2 linked regions of the Homo sapiens genome follow. The protein of the gene in region 1 interacts with the protein of each later gene in a pairwise test. Each region holds a gene or a part of one and is shown in the gene's direction. Other genes may lie near its edges. The genes, in order: CDHR3 and CCT8.

Region 1 (3,826 bases):
TCTTGAGTATCAATGACCAAACTCTGCTGGGCAATACTAGGTATTGTGCTAGGTCCCCCTTCTCACTAGTACTGCCCTCATGCGGGGACCCCCTCTTTCTCGGCTGAATTACAACACTTAAGAGTCTTTGAAGGGAAATGCAAATGCCATCATATGACTTCCTTGGTTAAAGCCTTCGAGCATCTCCTGTAGCTGTCAAGTTCAAGTTCCAACTCTTTGACTTGGCATACAAGATTTTTCACCATTCGGTTGCTGCTTAATTCTCCAGCTTCACCTCCTGTCACTTGCTTCCAAGCCCCCATTTTTTTCCAACTGGGCAAACAGCTTGAAGTTTTCCAGAGTGAATTATGTGGTTTTATACCTTGGCATTTTTGCATATGCCTACAACACCCCCCAATCTCCTCCCTGCCCCATTTGTCTAATTCTATCCTTATAAGGCTCAGCTTGTTCATTCTCCTGGAAGCTGTTCCTACTCTGGGTTCTGTAGTGCTCTGTGTGCTCATGCGCTTATCAAAGGGTGAACACCCTCGGCATCTAAAAGGCAGGAGCTCCCATGTCTTAGCCACCTGGTATCCCCTATGCGCAAAGCCTGTACACAGGAGATTCTTTAAAGATGTTGAATAAACAAATGGATGAGTATGGATTTGTGATTAAATGTGTTTCTATTTCCATTTTTAGATAACGTCTACGTTTATATCCTAACAAGCCCAGAAAATGAGTTTCCTCTCATTTTTGATAGGCCATCCTATGTATTTGATGTGTCAGAAAGAAGGCCCGGTAAGTAACAGATAAGACACAGACCAGAGTGCTGTCAATGGACTCCATCCAAACGTGTGTTCTGTGGAGTGGAAAACTCCCTTCTGGAGGCCTCGCATGCTGTTTTGCACAGTGATTCACAGCTGATTAGTATTTATTGCACCTCTTATTTCTTTTAAATTTTCCTCGCTGCTGAGGAGCCCTTCAGGTGAAACTTGGACTTTTGAAAACTGTTGGTTAAACTGCATTTCTCAGAAGCCTCTGATTGCTTCCTTGCCTGTTTGCCTGATTCCGCTAATCCTCCCTTTTCCAGGTTTAAGTTTTCTCTTGGTCTCCACTGTGAGTTTTATCCAGCTCACTCAGAGAATTAAAATTTAAAAACAGAAAAGGTTTCCCATTTCTATATTTCCTTCATTTACAAACAAAATAAAGGCATTTTCTCTCTCCCCTACTAAGATTCCCTGAAGGCCTTCTTTTCTGCCCTTTACAACACCCTGCTTTTTGCAGGCTCCTCCCCCTTTAAGGAAAAGACTCACTCCCCACTTCCAGCTTCACTTTCTGCCTCCCTCTCGCTCTCTCAGTTTGAAGGTAATACTATAAATGCTCTAGTGTAATAGACTCCCCACAGCCGTTCATCTTTAGATCATGGATACTTTTTCCATATTAAAAACAACAACAACAAATGAAACCAAAACCAAAACGCTCCCTCTAAAATGATCCATTCTCTTTAGGATGGTCTCCATTTCCTGACATTAAGTTTTCAAGCAAAATGCAAAATGCAAGTCCAAAGAAAATGCTTTTAATTTCTTATACCTTATCCAGTGAATAACAAATTCGAAAGGAATAGGCTTTCTGGGAATTCACAGATCTTACTGCAGTTCTTTTTGATCACCTACTTTGGGTTACAAACTTAGTGCTGGGATACAGAATTGAAAAAGAGAAGGTTCTGCCCTTGAGGAGTGTAATTTATGAGAAGGAACTCCTACAAAACAAGCCAGAATGCTAGCAGACCCACCAACAATATTTGTAAAAATTGCAAAATGGAAGAGGATTTAAAAATCTATAATCTGTAATCATCAATTACTAAATTCTTTAACAATTATTTATTTTTAAAAGAGCAATTCATGCTCATTATAGAAAATTGAAAAACACGGGACTTTTAGACAATACTGCTGCAAAGAGATGTATGTGTGAGGTTGTATGTTCTTTGTACTATTGTTTCTGATAGCAAAATGATTAGTGTCCCTGGAGCCTATATAAAGGCATAAATTGCTGGGCATGGTGGCTGACGACTATAATCCTAGCACTTTGGGAGGCCGAGCTGGGCGGATCACTTGAGGTCAGGAGATCGAAACCAGCCTGGCCGACATGGTGAAACCCCATCTCTTCTAAAAATACAAAAAGATTAGCCAGGTGTGGTCGTGGGCACCTGTAATCCCAGCTACTTGGGAGGCTGAGGCAGGAGAATTGCTTGAACCCAGGAAGTGGAGGTTGCAATGAGCCGAGATCGCACCACTGCACTCCAGCCTGGGCGACAGAGTGAGACTCCGTCACACACAGACACACACACACACACACACACACACACACACACACACACACACAAAGATATAAATTGTCTATTACACCTCACAGGACTGCTTGGATCATAGGGTCAGTTACCTAGCGGGTGTTGGTTAGCATTATTTCAATTTAGTAGAATTGAAGCTATAAAACAGAGTTTGGACAGCAAGGAGGCCTCCAGAAGTCCTTCTTACCATGGCAGTTAGGACATCTGTTCCTGAATCATCCTTCTCTACCCCTTAAAAGCAGGACTTATTGCAGGTACTTTATTCCTCCAGCCAGAACCCGAGTGGGACAGGTGCGAGCCACTGATAAAGACCTCCCCCAGAGCAGCCTCCTGTACTCCATCTCCACTGGAGGGGCCAGCCTCCAGTATCCAAATGTATTTTGGATTAATCCCAAGACAGGAGAACTCCAGCTGGTAACTAAAGTGGACTGTGAAACAACCCCCATCTATATTCTCAGAATCCAGGCCACCAACAACGAAGACACAAGCTCTGTCACTGTGAGTGGTGCTGCTTGGTATAGTGCCGGTAACCCAACTGGTTGACTTAGGGTCTCTCTGGCACCCCCAGAGTGTGGATGTGGCAATGAGGAAACTTCCCAGGGTACATCCTGCGGATGTGGTGAGAAACAAGTAAAGGTGCCCTGGGAAATAAAGATCCACATTTTTCTTTTTTCGTTTTTGAGGCAGGGTCTCGCTCTGTTGCCCAGGATGGAGTACAGTGGTGTAACCTTGGCTCACTGCAACTTCCACCTCCTGGGCTTAAGCGATTCTCGTGCCTCAGCCTCTCAAGTAGCTGGGATTGCAAGTGTGCACCACCGTGCGCAGCTAATTTTTGTATTTTTAGTAGAGACGGGTTTCTCCATGTTGGCCAGGCTGGTCTCGAACTCCTGACCTCAAGTAATCCACTCGCCTCAGCCTCTCAAAGTGCTAGGATTATAGGCGTGAGCCACTGCACCCAGCCCCATATTTTTTTGAGGCCCAAGTTTGCGGGTGACTGACAAAAGCACTAAAGTTGTTGGCCAGATATTAGAATGTCTGGTGGACCCACAAAGCCACTTTGTGGGACAAGGTTCCTCTTGTGGCCCTGTAAATCTTGCTTTGCCTTCACTGAAGGCTGTTGGTGAAATGCACACTTCCTAGAAGTTGAGTGTGGTTTTGGAGTTATGCATTTCCTCCCCAGGAGCAGTTATGCCGTGTTCCTACCCTGCCTCTATGCATACCAGATGGGGTAGATCTTAAAACGATGCTGTGCTGCTATCTTGCTTCCCAACCTTTGAGGCTGAGAATGTTGTTACAGGCAGATTCTGAGTCAGAGGGTCTGGGGCCTGAGATTCTGCATTTCTGACGTGCTTCCAAGTGGGGCGGCGCTGCTGGTCCCCTGCCACACCTCGAGTTGCAGGGACCTAATAGGTCCATGTTGTCAGTGGTTTGGATTATCCAAGGGCAACATGATAGCCACAAAGACCAAACTATTCCCTGGTCCTTCCCATTAGTAAAGTA
Region 2 (3,826 bases), on another chromosome or scaffold:
TAACACAATAAGAATATTCCACATTTCAACAGTTAGTTAGAAAATACTGATAAATTCTGGAAAGGTATTCTACTTGAAGTACCTCATACCCTTTCTCTAATTAGTCTTAGCATGGTTCCCTGTACTTTTCACTACTTTTAATAAAAAAAATTTTAAGTCTTTTGATGTGTAAGTAGGTACCTGCGGTCCCCCAAAATGTTATACTTTATTCATTCAACTAGAGAGGAAATGTATGCATCATTTATGAATATCAAATGCTGTGTTTTACATTAAAAAATCTTGTTTGATTGTCTCAACAATCCTATGAGTTAGGTACTATTATAATTACTTCATTTTATAATGAAGAAATGTTAAGAAAATTGCCCAAATTTAAAAAGAGCCAGAAAGCTAAGATTTGCAACCAGCCCTCTTGTGCCAAATACCTAAGCTATGCTCCCTCTTTATTAGAGGCAAGATATAAGCAAAGATATCTTGTATTTGAAATTTTTGTTTCACTGTCCTGTCTAATTAGCGGGGTTTTTTGTTTGTTTTTTTTAACAGCACTTTTCAGGATTAGAAGAGGCTGTGTATAGAAACATACAAGCTTGCAAGGAGCTTGCCCAAACCACTCGTACAGCATATGGACCAAATGGTAATTTCTAAATTAATATTTGTAAAGATACAGTAGTAGAATATTGTGTACTACGTCTTCTTTCAGACTTGTTCTGAGGATGTTATGGTATGACTTCGGAAGTTAATTTGATAGCTCAATGATAGTTCATTTCCAATTTTTAGTTATTTCTAATTTTCAATCAACTCACATCTCTTTAGAAAAATGGGGGTCAATATATTACTTTTTATCCTGTTGAGAGGATAGAAAAATTATAACACTTTGACTAGTAAGATAGTACCTAATGTTCATTCTGACAAACACTAAATATAAAAGTGACATAGTTTAAGGAAGAAAATTCTCTCCTTCCTCTTGCCTTCTACCACCAATTAAATTTAAATGATACAGTTTCATGGAATAAACATACAACTAAATATACTAAGTAGATTATTTTGGCCTTTTTACATGTTAATTTCTGTTGAGCACTTGCTGCATGACAGTCATGTTGCAAACAGAAGATAGAAATTGGCAAAAATGTGAGATTTGGCATCTTACGTAGTAAATATTGTAGGACATTAGAAAGGGAAGAAAGAATATGGGTCTGCAGTCAGAGAATGCCCATGGGGCTATAAGATAAACTTGAAGAATAGATAGTATGTGTTTTCTTGCAAAGCTCTTTTTTTAATATACAAATTTATAATTTCTTAACTAGATTTTCCTGGGTATTTGGGGAAGGATTTGATTAATAATGGCTTTCTTTTTCTTTTTTTAACTGTTACTTTTGAGGAATGAACAAAATGGTTATCAACCACTTGGAGAAGTTGTTTGTGACAAACGATGCAGCAACTATTTTAAGAGAACTAGAAGTAAGTTGTTTCTTTAAAAAGTCAAGAAATATTTTGGTGACATCAAAATTAAGTAGATTTTAACTAGAAGAAATCTCTTATTTCAGATTGGATAAGGGACTATTTTTCCAGCTTGAAAATTTATTGTACAGATTGTTCTAATTATAAAGAGTCCTCTTTAGATTGAATGTTTTAGCCACTGAAATCTTAAAAATCTCTCAAGTTATTAATTTATGGAGGGATTGGTTGTGATACATTGCTAATTACGATATGAAATTGATTACCATTGTCTTCATTCTATAGGGTGACTCTGAAGTGAATTATTCCACAGTGCAAAAACGTATACATATAACAGTGGTTTTTAAAAAGATCCAACCATTTGGTTTTGTGAAAATAAAAACAATCAGTTGATGGCATTTTACTTTGTTCAGCTTTAGTTTTACTATTAGAATCTATAAAATAGATACTGCCTGCCAGCAGGGTTATAAGGAAGGTCTGGCACCTGAACAGGCAGAGAGAGCCATTCCTCATTCCCGCCTTGTAATTAAAGGATAACATATTCAACCTCAGGGAATTTTCCTGAAGCTTAGCCCTTGAAAGCACTAGAACTTAATCTTTTGTTTTAAATGAAACGATAGAAGAATCAACATTTTTCTAACCTCTTAAATAATATATTTTTGGTTGGACGCGGTGGCTCACGCCTGTAATCCCACCACTTTGGGAGGTCAAGGCAGGCGGATCACCTAAGGTCAGGAGTTTGAGACTAGCCTGGCCAACATGGTGAAACCCCATCTCTACTAAAAATACAGAAACAAAATCAGCCGGGCGTGGTGGCACACACCTGTAGTTCCAGCTACTCAGTAGGCTAGGGCAGGAGAATTGCTTGAACCTGGGAGGCGGAGGTTGCAATGAGCCAAGATCGCGCCACTGCACTCCAGCCTGGGCGACAGAGCAAGACTCCATCTCAAAAAAGAAAAAAAAATACATATTATATATATAAATTCTTAAAGAACTTAAGTTAAAAGTTAAATTTTAACTCCACAAAACACTTGTACAAGGGTTTGTCACTGTGAATGTTAATGTTGCACACTGATGATCTCAGGAGTTATTAAAGTACAGTGGTGATACCGTCAAAATAATAAAATCACAGGGCTGACTTTTTATAGTTTTCTTGTTGCTCTCAGTTCTTACTCCTTGGCTTGTTTCTGTAAAGGTATCTAAAATTAAATCCTAAGAATAAAATCCACATAAAATTATGTTATATTTGAAGAAAAGTTTTATACTCCCCCTTTTCTTTAAATCACAAATGATAACCCTTACAACAAGAATATATAGTAAAATAGATATTGAGAGTCATGACCAAGTTAAGTGGTATCTATTTTAGTTCTCCTGAAGGCTTTTAAAAAATATCTAGGTTTGGTGGTTGTAATTACTTTGTTTTTTAATTTAGTGAAATATGATATGGTGAAACATATGTGTGGCACTGTATGTGCAGGCCACCAAAAGAGGATGCACTTTGAAATTCTTATTTATAGTGATACATTTGTGCTGATCGGCATAAAGGGACTTGGATTTTTTCTTGTGACCACACTATAAGTAGCGTATAGCAGTGTAGCAGTGTGATCAGATGGAGTTACCTAATCTACAAGAAAATTGAGTCTATTTAAGAAATGGAAATGAACAATTTTATGTTGCTTTAAGGATCAGATGTTTAACTTGATATTACCTTTTCTACTAGGTACAGCATCCTGCTGCAAAAATGATTGTAATGGCTTCTCATATGCAAGAGCAAGAAGTTGGAGATGGCACAAACTTTGTTCTGGTATTTGCTGGAGCTCTCCTGGAATTAGCTGAAGAACTTCTGAGGATTGGCCTGTCAGTTTCAGAGGCAAGTGTTCATTTATAATTTACTCCTACTAAATTTTTGCTTACATATACACCTGCTTAAAACATAAACTAAAATCATTATTATAGTAGTAGCTAACATGCACTGAGCAGTTTGCTCTGTACCAGCCATTATAGTACATATGCTTCACATGCTGTATCATTTTAGTCTCACAAAAACCCTATTAGTGAGGCCTTATAATCCCATTTTATCTATTTTTTTTCCCACTTTATTTTAGATGAGAAAAGAGACTAAAATTAGAAAAATCTTGCCCAAGATCTCATAGCTAGTGAGTTAGGTAGAGTTAAGATTCAAATTTGGGCTGTCATCTAAGCCTCCATTCATAACTAGTAGAGTCTACTATATGTTTTATTCCGAAGTATATTCTTTGTCATTTTGTATCAAAAATAAACATCCATATGCATTGGGTTACCAAAATAAGCTACTTTAAGTCATGTCAGAATAGGAAATGTTGTTTATGTTTTAGGTCATAGAAGGTTATGAAAT

The links.
Region 2: the proteins of CDHR3 (region 1) and CCT8 interact in binary tests that used the Homo sapiens proteins (3 or more experiments, as listed by UniProt).

Annotation. Positions count from the first base shown.
Region 1 is NC_000007.14:106,015,249-106,019,074, forward strand, and holds part of CDHR3 (cadherin-related family member 3 isoform 1 precursor), read left to right. Parts: intron 1-678; coding exon 679-777; intron 778-2,597; coding exon 2,598-2,824; intron 2,825-3,826. UniProt on the Homo sapiens protein: Cadherins are calcium-dependent cell adhesion proteins.
Region 2 is NC_000021.9:29,067,052-29,070,877, reverse strand, and holds part of CCT8 (T-complex protein 1 subunit theta), read left to right. Parts: intron 1-540; coding exon 541-631; intron 632-1,375; coding exon 1,376-1,455; intron 1,456-3,172; coding exon 3,173-3,322; intron 3,323-3,806; coding exon 3,807-3,826. UniProt on the Homo sapiens protein: Component of the chaperonin-containing T-complex (TRiC), a molecular chaperone complex that assists the folding of actin, tubulin and other proteins upon ATP hydrolysis.